2 linked regions of the Homo sapiens genome follow. The protein of the gene in region 2 interacts with the protein of the main gene of each other region in a pairwise test. Each region holds a gene or a part of one and is shown on either strand. Other genes may lie near its edges.

The links. Proteins that work in one complex are often made in the same cells at the same time.
Region 1: the proteins of HNRNPF (region 2) and AKIRIN2 interact in binary tests that used the Homo sapiens proteins (3 or more experiments, as listed by UniProt).

The regions. Positions count from the first base shown.
Region 1 is NC_000006.12:87,692,225-87,699,251, reverse strand, and holds part of AKIRIN2 (akirin-2), read left to right. Parts: intron 1-7,027. UniProt on the Homo sapiens protein: Molecular adapter that acts as a bridge between a variety of multiprotein complexes, and which is involved in embryonic development, immunity, myogenesis and brain development.
Region 2 is NC_000010.11:43,385,183-43,392,209, forward strand, and holds the end of HNRNPF (heterogeneous nuclear ribonucleoprotein F), read right to left. Parts: intron 2,755-7,027; 5' UTR 2,703-2,754; coding exon 1,455-2,702; 3' UTR 436-1,454; downstream 1-435.

The DNA of each region.
Region 1 (7,027 bases), on a different chromosome or scaffold from region 2:
TGTGCAGGTATCAAAGAGCTTCCCAGTTTTCATGTTAGTAAACTTGGAAATAATTTTCTCATGCACCTGATTTTTAGCTTCCTATTTTAACACCGATTATTCTTAAACTTTATGGGAGTAAATACCCATCTGTCATTAACTAAAATGAGTAGTTAGGTTTGGAAGTAGACAGTGGCTTACCAAATTGAGATTGGCAAACTTGTGGGAACTCTTTGTTTTCCTTTCACATCTGTGAGTTCAAATATAATACAAATTAATGTAGAACTAGAGTACTAAAGTGACTTTTTTTCAGAGCATGTATACACTTTATTTTATCATTGTTCTCCTCTAGATACTTTCAGTTTCTGATGGCATAGCTGAAGTCATGTTGTGGCTTTATTAGTTTCAGGAACTTGGATGTCTGTTTTAAACCTTAGCTATCATTTTAGTCATCCCAGGAAGTTTGACTTGACTATTCTTATTTAAATATTTTTCAAACTGTTGCAACTTAATACTAGGAAAAAGGAAGGACTAGCTGAGCTGACGGAAGTTAAGCTTGCTTTCTTAACCGCAAGGCTTAGAGCCTTTATTATGCTAATTGGCATTATGAATTTTTTAGGGACTCCTTAACACACAGCTATCCCAAACCTGTTTTTTAGGACACCTAAGTGTTACTAATTCAGAAATGCTGTTCAGGGTCTAGGGATGGTTGACAAAGTATAGCCATATTTTTGTGTAGCCTGAGAGCTAAGAATGTTCTTTACATTTTTTAAATGGTTGGAAAAGAATCAAAAGAATTATTTTGTGACACGTGAGAATTATGTGAAATTCAAATTTCAGTGTCCATAAATAAAATTTTATTGGAACACAGCTGTGCTCATTCTTTTTTTTTTTTTTTTAAGTATTGTTCATTGCAGGTGACGATGGCAGAGTTTAATAGTTGTCACACACAGTATATTGCCCCGAAAACTCCATATTTGCTCTCTGGTGTTTACAGAAAAAGTTTGCTTACCCTCATGTGGGGTGTCAGCAGTGAGGTTTATAATACCCCTGGGTATGGAAAAGGAAAAGTGATCAGTGGAAGTAAGGGGAGGGGGAGCAGAAGCATTGAATATCGTTGGTGAAATGAATGCCTCTAGTAGCTGCATCAATACTTACCCTGGTAAGTTAGTTGAAAACCAAAGTATGCTTTACTATTGGTTTTTGAAACATCTCATAATACTACCATTTAGCCAAAAGATTGTCATGACATTCCCAAGAAAGAATTTTAATAAAACCAAAATATTGCAACATTATAAGAGACCGTCAATCAAATCCAGCACATTGTTTTCATTATGTAGTGAATGAATGGTCTGAAGATACCCTTCTGTGAATGTTAATGTATTTGTGAGTTTGTTAGGCACATTAATTCACATTGTTTATGGCTTGGTACCATTAATCTGCCTTAGGAATTGAATTCTGTGAAGAGTTAAGTTCCTTTGTAAGAACTCATTGTACTTGCTGGAAACTTGCCATTAAAAATGGAAACTGCAGCTTGTGAATGGGGAAGGGTTTACAGGAACATAGATTGTTCACCAGACATTGATGCATGCCTGCAAACGGAGACACCAGCTGGCTTCAATGAAATATAAATGGTTCTAGGCGAACAAATGAGACGTCTGTTGGAGGAGGCAGCATCTCTCTTCAGATGTCATTTACATTGAGCCAGAAGTATTTTTTAATATTTTGTGGTTATTTAGACAGCTGTTAAGTTGCTCCTAGTTTCTCACTGGATTTGGCAAATAAATGTTTTTAATGGTCTTTGTACTTTGAGTCTTAAACCTGATATTCTATTTAGGACTGTGTATGTAGCTGCAGTTACTGCATATTTCTGTGATTTATGCATTTAAGAATCCTGTAAGTTTATGGCCATTAAAAACTGCAGTTGTATTCATTACTAATATAGAGCTTTTTTTTTTTTTTTTTCTTGAGACAAAGTCTTACTCAGGCTGGAGTGCAGTGGCATGATCTCAACTCATTGCAACCTCCATCTCCTGGGTTCAAGCGATTCTCGAGCCTCAGCCTCTGGAGTAGCTGGGATTACAGGCGTGCGCCACCACACCTGGCTGATTTTGTTTTGTATTTTTAGTAGAGATGGGGTTTCACCATGTTGGCATGGCTGGTCTTGAACTCCTGACTTCAGGTGGTCCAACTGCCTTGGCCTCACACAGTGCTGGGATTATAGGTGTGAGCCTGTGCCGCCGGCTTTTTTTTTGTTCGTTTGTTTTGAGACGGAGTCTCACTCTGTCGCCTAGGCTAGAGTGCAGTGGCGCAATCTCAGCTCACTGCAACCTCCACCTCCTAGTTTCAAGAGATTCTCCTGCCTCAGCCTCCTGAGTAGCCGGGATTACAGGCGCACACCACCACGCCCGGCTAATTTTTGTATTTTTAGAAGAGATGGGGTTTCACCATGTTGGTCAGGTTGGTCTTGAACTCCTCACCTCATGATCCACCTGCCTCAGCCTCCCAAAGTGCTGGGATTACAGGCGTGAGCCACCGCGCCTGGCCTCCCTGGCTTTTTTTTTTTTTTTTTTGGATGGAGTCTCACTCTGTCCCCCAGGCTGGAGTGCAGTGGCACAATCTCGGCTCACTGCAAGCTCTGCCTCCCGGGTTCACGCCATTCTCCTGCCTCAGCCTACCAAGTAGTTGGGACTACAGGTGCCCGCCACCATGCCTGGCTAATATTTTGTATTTTTAGTAGAGATGGGGTTTCACCGTATTAGCCAGGATGGTCTCGATCTTCTGGCCTCATGATCTGCCCGTCTCAGCCTCCCAAAGTGCTGGGATTACAGACGTGAGCCACTGCGCCCAGCTCCCGGCTTTTTTATTAAGGTAGGAAAATAAAGCCTAACTTGAGCACAGCAACACATAGGCTAAACATGGCTAGATTAGAGGTTAGCCCCTCTTTAGGTGTGGAAGGTACTATTCACTATGGTTGCCACGGAGACATAACCTGAGATGTAAAGGAGAATAATATAAATTTCTTCAGTTTTTTAATGGCTTTATTGGAAAAAGAATGTAGTACATACTAATCGGGTCTTTGTTTTGTTTTTGTTTTCTGAGACAGTCTTGCTCTGTCCCAGGCTGGAGTGCAGCAGCACAATCTCGGCTCACTGCAATCTGCCTCCTGGGCTCAAATGATCCCCCTGCCTCAGCCTCTCAAGTACCTGGAGATACAGGCATGTGCCACCATGCCCAGCTAATTTTTGTATTTTTTTGTAGAGATGGGGTTTCACCATGTTGCCCAGGCTGGTTTCAAACTCCTGGGGCTCAAGCAATCTGCCCGCTTCAGCCTCCCAAAGTGCTGGGATTACAGATTTGAGCCACTGTGCCCGGCAGGTTTTTTCTGCTAAGTGTTTTGATAGATCTAGAAAGACAGTGATAGAAAGCTTTCGTTTTGAAAGATTGAGAATAAAAGCTTCAGTGGAAGTGCCCAGTTGTGAGTATCTTTCCTATTTGAAAAGAGATTTTTCTCTTTATAAAAGAAGAATGTGAAGTAATAGCATGGGTTAAGTTTGGGCCTCTTGAATAGTTGGTTCATGAAACTAGATAATGGTATTAGGAGTGGGAGTAGGTATTTTCAAGTACCTATCACTGAATTAGTTAACCAGCAATTTGTAGTCTCTGTAGTCCTTGTGTTAACCCTATGCCTAGCACTGTTGATTCAAAGAACGTTCTCTATATATGTGAAACTACAGGGAATTTCTTGCCTTTGAGAGCACCGCCTGCTTTTAAAAAGGTATGAGAGAAAATATTTATTTAAGCCTATACAAAACTATCAGGCATCTTAAGTCTTGACATTTCCCAAGGTTCTTAGAGTTGCTATGGTTGGAAAAAAATGTAATTTCAGTTTTACCCTGTAATTCTGTACCAAATTTTCTTTTTAGACTGTTCTATGACATTGTCATAATGTGTAACATTTTTGACAAAAAATGTGACTCCAACGAGTCGTAATAAATACTGCAATTAGTTTAAGACTTTGAATAATACTTTTCTGAGGAACTTTAAGTATATTTCTCTCTTCATTTTTCTGGATAATGATGAGAACATGGATTACATGAATTACAATATTTTAAGTAGCCCCATGTATAAGAATTTTTCTATTATCAGGTATTTGCTCATTGGAAGAAACATTTTAAAGGGTTTCACAGGATTTTTAGAAGAAAATACTTTTTAATAAGAAGTTGTGATTTATTTCCAAAGAAATTGAATTATTTGTTATAGCAAGTTTCTCACATGAGATGATATTGTATCTATATTAAGCAGGGAATCCCTGCAGGTAATTTAAAATTCTAGTGGATGTTAGTTTTTCAGCTTTGATATTTATTTTGGGCCTATTAATCAGAATTTTACAGTATAATAGATTTTGTAATATTTTTGGTGATGAGGATTTTACAGTATAACAATTTTTGTAATATTTCTTGTGATGGTAGGCTTTGTTGGGTGGTAAACTTTCTAGCACTAAGAAAGCAGCTCATAATAATATACTTTTAGTTTGTCTTGGGGTGTAGCTTTTTTTCCCTTTAGTTTTTATCTGTCACAAGTGTCACAGGCAGATCATCTTGAGATGTACTAGTGGCTATTGTGATTTTATTAACATTGTAATCTTTCCATTAAATACAACTTCTGGATTTGACTTTTTAGGTCTTTTGATGTACCTGGATTTCTTAACATTATTAAAACATTTAAATTCTTCTTCTAGAAGTCACTTGTTCGAACCCTTATGAACCTCATTTGAGTTCTAGATACTGCACTGGCTAGGCAAAGAAGAGTAAGAGTCTCTCTTGAGAGACTGATGATAGAGCAGCCACTGTTGATACTTTATTAGCTAGCACTTTATGCTTTATCAGTATACCTATTTTCATTTCTTATTAATATTTTTCCACATTAGTATTCATTTCCCCTTTGATAGCCTAAATATTGAAATTGGTTTACTGATTAAATCACTTTTGAAACAGTTTTTTTCCTTAAAGTGTTAAGGCTTGTTTACTAAGTTTCTGAAATTGTGTCAGTATATGATGTGTATTCTCACTTTGGTTAGCATTCATTTTCATTTCTGTTAATGTTAATTCTTGTAAAACTCCCTCAAAAAAATCAAACTAGTTGGAATGGTTTGAGAGAGGGACTTGGATTTTTCTTTTGTTTATTTTTGTTGAACTGATGAGTAAATGAAGAGTAGAATGTACAGTGAAGTTTGAAGAAAGCCAATTTTTCAAACATTACTGTCCCCCTGAACTGTGCCTTTTAATTATGATAGGAGATTGTCTTGTTCCTCCTACTAAAATATGATTATCTAGAAGAACTTTTCTAAGTGGTATACTTGATTTAAAGTATAGAAGATTTTAGTTGCTATGATAGAGAGGGGGACTTGATGTTCACTGTGACAATCTTTCATAGCCCAGGGTAAAATAGTGCATTATCAGAGCCTGGCATTGTAATTAGTTGTACATGTGTGGAAATACTGACCTATCAACTTGGAATAATTCTTCACTTTTTTTTTTTTTTTTTTGAGACAGAGTCACAGTCTGTCGCCCAGGCTGGAGTGCAGTGGCGCAATCTCAGCTCACTGCAACCTCTGCCTCCTGGGGTCAAGCGATTCTCCTGCCTTAGCCTCCTGAGTAACTGGGATTACAGGTGCGCACTGCCACACCTGGCTAATTGTATTTTTAGTAGAGACAGGGTTTCACCATGTTGGTCAGGCTGATCTTGAACTCCTGACCTCGTGATCCGCCCGTCTGGGCCTGCCACAGTGCTGGGATTACAGGCGTGAGCCACCGCGCCCGGCCATTTCTTAACTTTTAAAACACCAATAAAGCATTCTGGCTAGATATAAATACCTGTCCTAAGATGAGGCATTTTAGAGTCTTGAAGCATCCCTTATATACATTTCTGGATGTAACATGAAGAGGTGTTACAATTTTTTTTTATAGCTAGTCATTGCTGTTTCAGGGGTCTCATTAGATGAGAGTTATGCTTCATTTTGGTTATTGCCTTTTTCTTTTTTTGAGATGGAGTCTCACTCTGTCGCCCAGGTTGGAGTGCAGTGGCGCAGTCTCCGCTCACTGCAACCTCTGCCTTCTGGGTTCAAGTGATTCTCCTGCCTCAGCCTCCCGAGTAGCTGGGACCACAGGTGCCCACCATCATACCCGGCTACTTTTTTGTATTTTTAGTAGAGATGAGGTTTCACCATGTTAGCCAGGATGGTCTTGATCTCCTGACCTCGTTGATCCGACCACCACAGCCTCCCAAAGTGCTGGGATTACAGGCGTGAGCCACTGCGCCCGACCAGTTATTGCCTTCTTGACAATCCCATTTTTTGAAGTTTCAGTGTATGAAAGTATAAATTATGCATAGTACTGATGTCTATTCTAACTCCTGTTTTCTAAAAATTAACTTTCCTCGTTGTGATATTTATTTATTTTTGAGACAAGAGTCTTACTCTGTCACCCAGGCTGGAGTGCAGTGGCACGATCTCGGCTCACTGCAATCTGCCTCCTGGGTTCAAGCGATTCTCCTGCCTTAGCCTTCTGAGTAGCGGGGATTACAGGCGTGCGCCGCCACACCCAGCTAATTTTTGTATTTTTAGTAGAGACAGGGTTTTGCCATGTTGGCCAAGCTGGTCTTGAACTCCTGACCTCAGGTGATCTGCCCACCTCTGTCTCCCAAAGTGCTGGGATTACAGGCATGAGCCACCGCGCCCAGCCCATTGTGATTTATTTTAACATTAAATGCTAATAGAATTTTGATTAAGTGTAGTAATGTACTACTGGAGAGGGTAGTAGATGTTAAGAACTTGGGCCCTGAGGTCAAACCTGGCTCTGCCATGTTCAAGCCGTGTGACATTGCAGAAGACACTGAAGCAGAGCCTCATTTTTCTCATCTCAGGAAATGTGCACATGATGATAGTAGCATATGCCTCTTAGGGTTGTGAGAATTAAGAGCATTTACTGGCCAAGTGATGGAAATGGTCTCAAGAAGGCAACCTCAAATGGGACTTTTACTCACCAGC
Region 2 (7,027 bases):
AGGCTAGAAAAGGCTGAAGACTTCACAGACCTAATTTTTAATGCAGCTCTCAGGGGTTTTACCAAGAGCATTTATTTACTCTTTAAGATACTAATGAAGACCCTTAATATTGGTAAAATCATAACATATAGGTTACATTATACAGCTAGTGAAGTGGGAAAATAAAGTTGAAGAATTCCCAATGGTAGATAGCATTTTTGCACAGAATGGTTTTAAATAAACTCCACATTTTAAAGTCCTGATGGTTTGTATTTAGCATAAGGTTTAAAATGATAGTAATACTGTATGCTATATATAGAGCTGCCTGAATTTCAACATTGCTGTTGCCAAGGTAGATAGCAATTTGAAAATGGGTCTCAAGCTTGATAATGTGTATCCTGTCATAACCTAATTAACAAATGCGCCCTACAGAAATCAGGAGCGTGACCAAAAAAAAAAGTTTAAATCAGCATTTTATAAAAACTAGAAACAAAATAATTGCTTTCACAATGTAGTACTTGAAACTAAAGTTCTCCAGCTATCAACAGATGTGACTCCAGCATCAAGGGCCTAGCAGGAAAATTCTGAATGGTTTACAACAGTGCACATAAGTTGCAGGTGGCTGGGGCCGTGTGTCTATTTGATGCTTCCCAGAATGTGTGCTGCTAGTCACCATTTCCACCATTCACATATTTAACATTTTTATTAGACTTTTATTTAGCCTCATCATAAGAATATAAGGGAGATCATAGATTTGATGTATGAAATTTTTAAATTCACACTAAAATACATTACGATTAAAATGAATTATCTTCAACCACCCGTTTTGCTATCTTTTGCTGAGTAATCTGTGCCAGTCATTGTGAAAAAGTCTTTATTTTAAGAAAAAAATTTAGTTAACAAAAAATTTAACAAGTTTCACTTAGCAAAATACACCCAAAAGGAAATCACAGTACAAAGAAAGTTTTAAGTCAAGGCCTCACCAATTCCTACAGTATTAGTATTGTGTCTCAATTCTCAAAACTAACTTTTAAAAAGCTTAAACTTAACCTAAAGGATTTTAAATGAAAATATAAACTAGAATGAACAAACATGAGAAATATTTCTTTGAATCAGGGAGCTAGCACCTTTGAGTTTTCCAAAAAAGCACGTCTCCCCAGTGTGTTCACTGTGATGTGGTGTAAAAGATCCACATTTAACATACTTAAACTACTTAAACTTAGATAACATCACTCTGAAGTATACTACCAAAATGTTAATTGAGAAAAGCTGAAAATAGTTTTAGTTTACTCATTATCACATGCTAGAAGAAAATTTTGCATGAGAAAACACTGAAGAGGTAATTTTTTAATCCAGATTTTTCACAAACTCATGGTGCAAAATGGGTCCCCCAGCTTCCTCTATTATAACTGCTCTTAATTGCTTGTTGGCTGCCTGTGAAAATGATTGAAGTAACTCAAATGTTCCTAACAAAACTAGTCATAGCCACCCATGCTGTTCTGCCCACTGTAGCCGGCCCCGTAACAGCCACTCACTGACTGGCTCTCCAGGCCACTGTAAGTGGCCTGGGCAGCAGACACCCCCATGCCTTGCATCACCTGGCTGCTATACGCCCCATTGCTGGCCCCTGTTGTTGAATTCAAGAAGAGTTCTATATATCTGTGCTGCATATTGGCCCTGTCTTTGGACATAGCTGCCACAGCTTCTTCATGAGTAGCAAACTCAACATCTGCTTCACCCGTCACTCTTCCATCTGGGCCAATCTCAATATGGACTCTCACAGGGTTGAGAGGAGAGAAGAAGTTGTAAATGTCGTTCTCGGTCGCTTTGTACGGCAGGCCCCTCATGTGGACACAGTGGCCTGTGGTGCTCTGCACTGTGAACTCACTGTCGCCGTATCTGTGGTCATACATTCCGGAGAGACAGTAGCTGAGGTCTCTCCCGAACAGGTCGGTGGTGAAGCCGTAGCCATCACTGAGGCCACTGTACTCCTCGTAGCCCCCGTAGCCTGTGCTGTAGGCACCAGGCCTCATCCTTTCCAGGCCTGCCTGCTTCACGATGCCAATGTACCTCCTGGCAGTCCCGGGCCGGTCATAGGGCCCTGGCCGCTGCACGGACATGAACTTCAGAGGGGGATCTGAGTATGACCTAACTTCCTCCTGGCTGCTCTTAAACACCTCAATGTACCTGTGCCCTATCCTCTCCTTGTGTTTCCCTAGAGCCTTCTCAGCTAACTCCTGCGAGGCAAACTGCACGAACGCTTCCCCTGTAATCTTGCCTTCGGGGTCCACAGGCAATGTGATCCCGTTTGGCACAATTTCCAACCCTGAGAAGAACTGAACAATTTCTTCCTTTGTGCATCCAAATGGGAGTCCTCGAAGCCGCACGAAGCCATCGTTGGCGCTGTCGGCACTGTTGGGACCACTGTGCTTCAACACCCAATCCATCTCGGTTCTGTGGGACTTGAACACCTCAATGTACCGGTGTCCCATGCTTTCCCTGTCTTTTTTCAGGGCCATTTTTACATCATCTTCTGATCCAAGTTCAACAAAAGCCTCACCACTCTGCCTGCCCTCTCTAGTGTAGATGAAATGGACACCTGCGGCCCCATCATGAATCGTGCAGTCAGAGAGGAAGTTCTGCACGTCCTCAACAGAGCAGGACCAGGGCAGGCCACGGAGCTTGACCACAAAGCCTTCACCTCCCTCAGGGCCCAGCATCATGGACACTTGTCAGGGTGGGTGTCAGGTGATCTTGGGTGTGGCTTTTTTGTGGCTGGAAAAAAAAAAAAGAAAAATTTATTTAGTATGCAACAGAAATTTTCCCCATTTTACAGACGAGAGAGGTAGCAAGACATTAAGAAATATACCAAATACAATTGAGAGCTAAGAGTTAACTCCAGGTCTCTCAAAAAATTACATTATCAGTCACAGGCAGTTTGAAAAACAAATCAGGAGTTTACAAGACAGGACGATGCATGTGAATGTGGTGCCTTGAACACAGAGAAATGTAAGTTTCAGTCAGTTTAGAGCAAGGGCATTTCCTTGTTATATTTATTCCACATATTTGTCATGATAATATGTGGCAGTTCACCTATAAGAGCTCCTGAGTTGTTCCTCCTAAACTATACGCCTTACATTTGGTAAAATAGTAAATTTAGTAAATCTGCTTGTCTATGGTAGGATACTTTTACTTTCATGAGTAAAAATAAGGGATGGGAACATAGCAGGCTGTTTTTAAACCACAACATAGGGTAAGATTTTCTAGTGTTCTCATCAGCAGTAATGTTGCCAGGATACAAGACAGCAATGGCTTCCACTGTCTATGGAGTTATGATTTTGCTCCTAAATTGTCAATTCAAACTAAATACCAGTCAAGTATGAGGCCAAACTGATGACATATACAGACAAGCAGACAAATTCACCAGCAGACTTAGTTATGTGCACTGCAAATAAATGGAGAAACCAGATCAGATGATTCACAGGTTCACATAAAATATAGCAGAATTGCTGCCTTGTGCTGAAGATCTGGAAGAGGGCATCGGGAAGAAAGGGCAATCGCAAGAGGGCTGAGAAATGCCCTTCCCACCAGGGTGGTACATGGCACCTGAAGTCCAAACTCAGAGTAAGGCCAACCACACACTGGAAGGCAGTCTTCTGAGAAAGAGGAGCAGCTGACCTAGACAGCAGGGTCTATAACATAGTCACAAGCAAGAAAAACACTGCAGTATCATGGGGCCAAAGACGTATTTTTATATGAACACTGTCAAGGGTGACGCTCAAAAAGAGCATAGGAGTATATGGAATTTTTTTTTTTTTTTTTTTTTTTGAGACAAGAGTCTCACTGTCGCCCAGGCTGGAGTGCAGTGGTGCTGTCTCGGCTCACTGCAACCTCCGCCTCCTGGGTTCACGAAATTCTCCTGTCTCAGCCTCCTGAGTAGCTGGGATTACATGCACCAGCCGCCACGCACGGCTAATTTTTTATACTTTTAGGAGATACGGGATTTCACCATGTTGGCGAGGTTGGTCTTGAACTCCTGACCTCAGGTGATCCGCCCACCTCAGCTGCCCAAAGTGCTGGAATTACTGGCGTGAGCCACCATGCACAGCTGGAAATCGAATGTTTCAAAGTGTCATTTTACATCAAGCATAATAGATATAGCTGGTGGCCTTTTCAAGAAATATGGGCTCATCATGTGGGGAAAAAAGCTCCATAAGAAAACCCCACAATTTAAAAAACAGACAAAAAGTAAAGGTAAGTGTAATTTAAGAAAAGGAAAAGCAAATTCATACTAAATAAATGCTCAACTGCACTAGCTTCAGGGAAAATTAGTAATTTTAAAGTTTGATGTAGCCATTGCAGATAATGACATATTATCATACAGTGCTTCATCATTTCAAATTGACAACGTCTAAAAGGATAATTGTGTAAATCTTTCAAATTTACCTGTGTCTACACCAGATTATAAAGATAACAAGATGTGTCTCCTCTCCCAATAACAAGCATAATGGCACAAATGAAACAGAACAGTATGTGATATCCTGAACACATCACCAAGACCAAACACTCGGCATTTACTCACGAACTGTGATTTGGAATGCAAGGGCTTTCAAAGTATACAGCCTAACTAAAAGATGTCACCCTTGCTAATGAGAGTGGAACATGGAAGCCTCTGGGAAGAGAGTCAAGGGGAGCCTAACCTGGATTGCTCATTGCCCACCTCAAATTATTGACTATGTACATAAACTCCATCAACTTTTATAAAATAATCCTGAACGGCAAATGATTGGGCATAAATAATCCTATCCCCAATTCTCAAACTGTGCTTTGGGTCTGCAACAAACCCTGGGGTTTAGCCTCCACCTTAGAAAGTAATGGTCTCCGCCTCCCCAGGGCCTTATCTAAATCCCCTGCATATGGCCACTGCAACATGCTGATCTGGCAGAGCAAGGTCACAGCAGATTCTTCCTCTCCTGTCCACGGAGGGAATTCTGTGCTAACAGTTCAGAAGCTCCTCCTTGGAGAGTCAGGGCAAGTTTGTATTGTGTCTCTTGGGATAATGGGTCTGGGACAGCTCAATTACAGGTGGGGGCTTCTTATGCAATTCCATTCCCAACACTGGGTCAGGCTAGGCACCGCCTGTCCTTTTGTCTTTGACCATACCCTGGTCTTGCTCCTCACTCATGAAAAGTATCTGAAGGCCTCCCTCGAGTTCTGTTCCTAGCCTTAGGTCCAGCCATCGTTCCGGGTAGGGGAGATGAAGCCATAATCCACTAACCATTTTCTCCTGGACTCCTACCTCCAATGATTTCACCATTCCCTGCAGGAAACCCCACCTAATCACATCCTACTCCCTCCACCACAACTGCTATCCCCCTCCTTTGTAGAGACCTTGGCTTCCTTATCCACACAGCCTCTTTCTCTCCTCATTCTTCATAATCCAGCTTAGAGCAAGTATCATTTTACATTCCTTCCTCACAATACATGGAATTCATTCAATGAACTTCTTAACTGTACGCGCCCAGTAAAACCAGAGCTCTGGAAGATTCCAAACAAATATCTGACTACTCCATGGATGTACTGAGTGGCTCAGCTGCACACAGCCAGGCGAAACGGTGCCTCTAAGCTACAATTTCTCAGCCTCAGGACTACTGACATTTTGGACCAGACAGTTCTTTGTGTTGTGGAGGCAGGCCCAGGCACTGTAGGATGTTTAGCTGCATCCCTGGTCTCTGCCCACTAGATGCCAGTAGCACCCTCCACCTCCAGTTCTGACAACCGAATGTCTCCAGACATTCCCAAATGTTCTCTGGTGGCTAATGCTGCCCCCAAGTTGTGAAATACTGTAGAAATCAGGGTGAGGCCAGGCACAGTGGCTCCCACCTATAATCCTAGCACTTTGGGAGGCCGAGGTGGGTGGGACCACTTGAGATCATGAGTTCCAATAGACAAAACCTCTGTCTCGACTAAAAATACAAAAAACTAGCCGGGCGTGATGGTGGGCACCTGTAGTCCCAGCTACTTGGGAGGCTGAGGCAGGAGCATCGCTTGAACCTGGGAGGCAGAGGTTGCAGTAAGCCAAGATCGCACCACTGCACTCCAGCCTGGGCGACAGTGCAAGACTCTGTCTCAAAAAAAAAAAAAAAATTACCTGGACGTGGTGGTGGGCGCCTGTAGTCCCAGCCACTACGGAGGCTGAGGCAAGAGAATCACCTGAACCCAGGAAGCGGAGTTTTCAGTGAGTGGAGATCGCACCATTGTACTCCAGCCCGGGTGACGGAGCGAGACTAACTCCAAAAAAAAACCCACCACACAAGAAAAAAAAAAGAAAATCAGAGTGAACAGCCATAGAGTAAGCGGGCCCTCAATATCGCCCACTGTCCTACCCCAGCACCCTGCTTGTCCAAAGCCCTTCAGATGTCTGGGGCAGCCTTACAGACTCTCACCTCCTCTCCAGCTGGTTGACATTACTCTTGGAAGTGGACTTTGTGAAGTCAAGTCAGAGTCCAGGAGTTTGTAAGCACGTAGTGGGCCCCTTACAGCGGACATCGTGAACAACAGCTCTGCTCTGGGTCCAACCTCACATACCCCGGAGCCATGCTTTCTTCTTTTTTTCCTTTTCCCCTTTCTCCACTGAGCCCTGTCTACTTGGTAATTAAACATGCTCAGTTCTACCCAATCATGTCATACCTCCCCTGTGCCAACTTTGCCTCTAGCTACTTGTTGATTTGTTCAGCAAAATCTTGTCAAAAGGCCTCTACTGTCACTTCCACTCCCCTCCATTAAAACTGCATGATCAAGGCCACGTGTGGTGGCTCACCGCCTGTAATCCCAGCACTTTAGGAGGTCAAGGAGGGTGGATAACCGGAGCCAGGAGTTCAAGACCAGCCTGACCAACATGGTGAAATCCCGCCTCTACCAAAAATACAAAAATTAGCCGAGCATAGTGGTGGACACCTAGGTTGAGCGCAGTGGCTCACGCCTGTAATCCCAGCACTTTGGGTGGCCAAGGCAGGCAGATCATTTGAGGTCAGGAGTTCCAGACCAG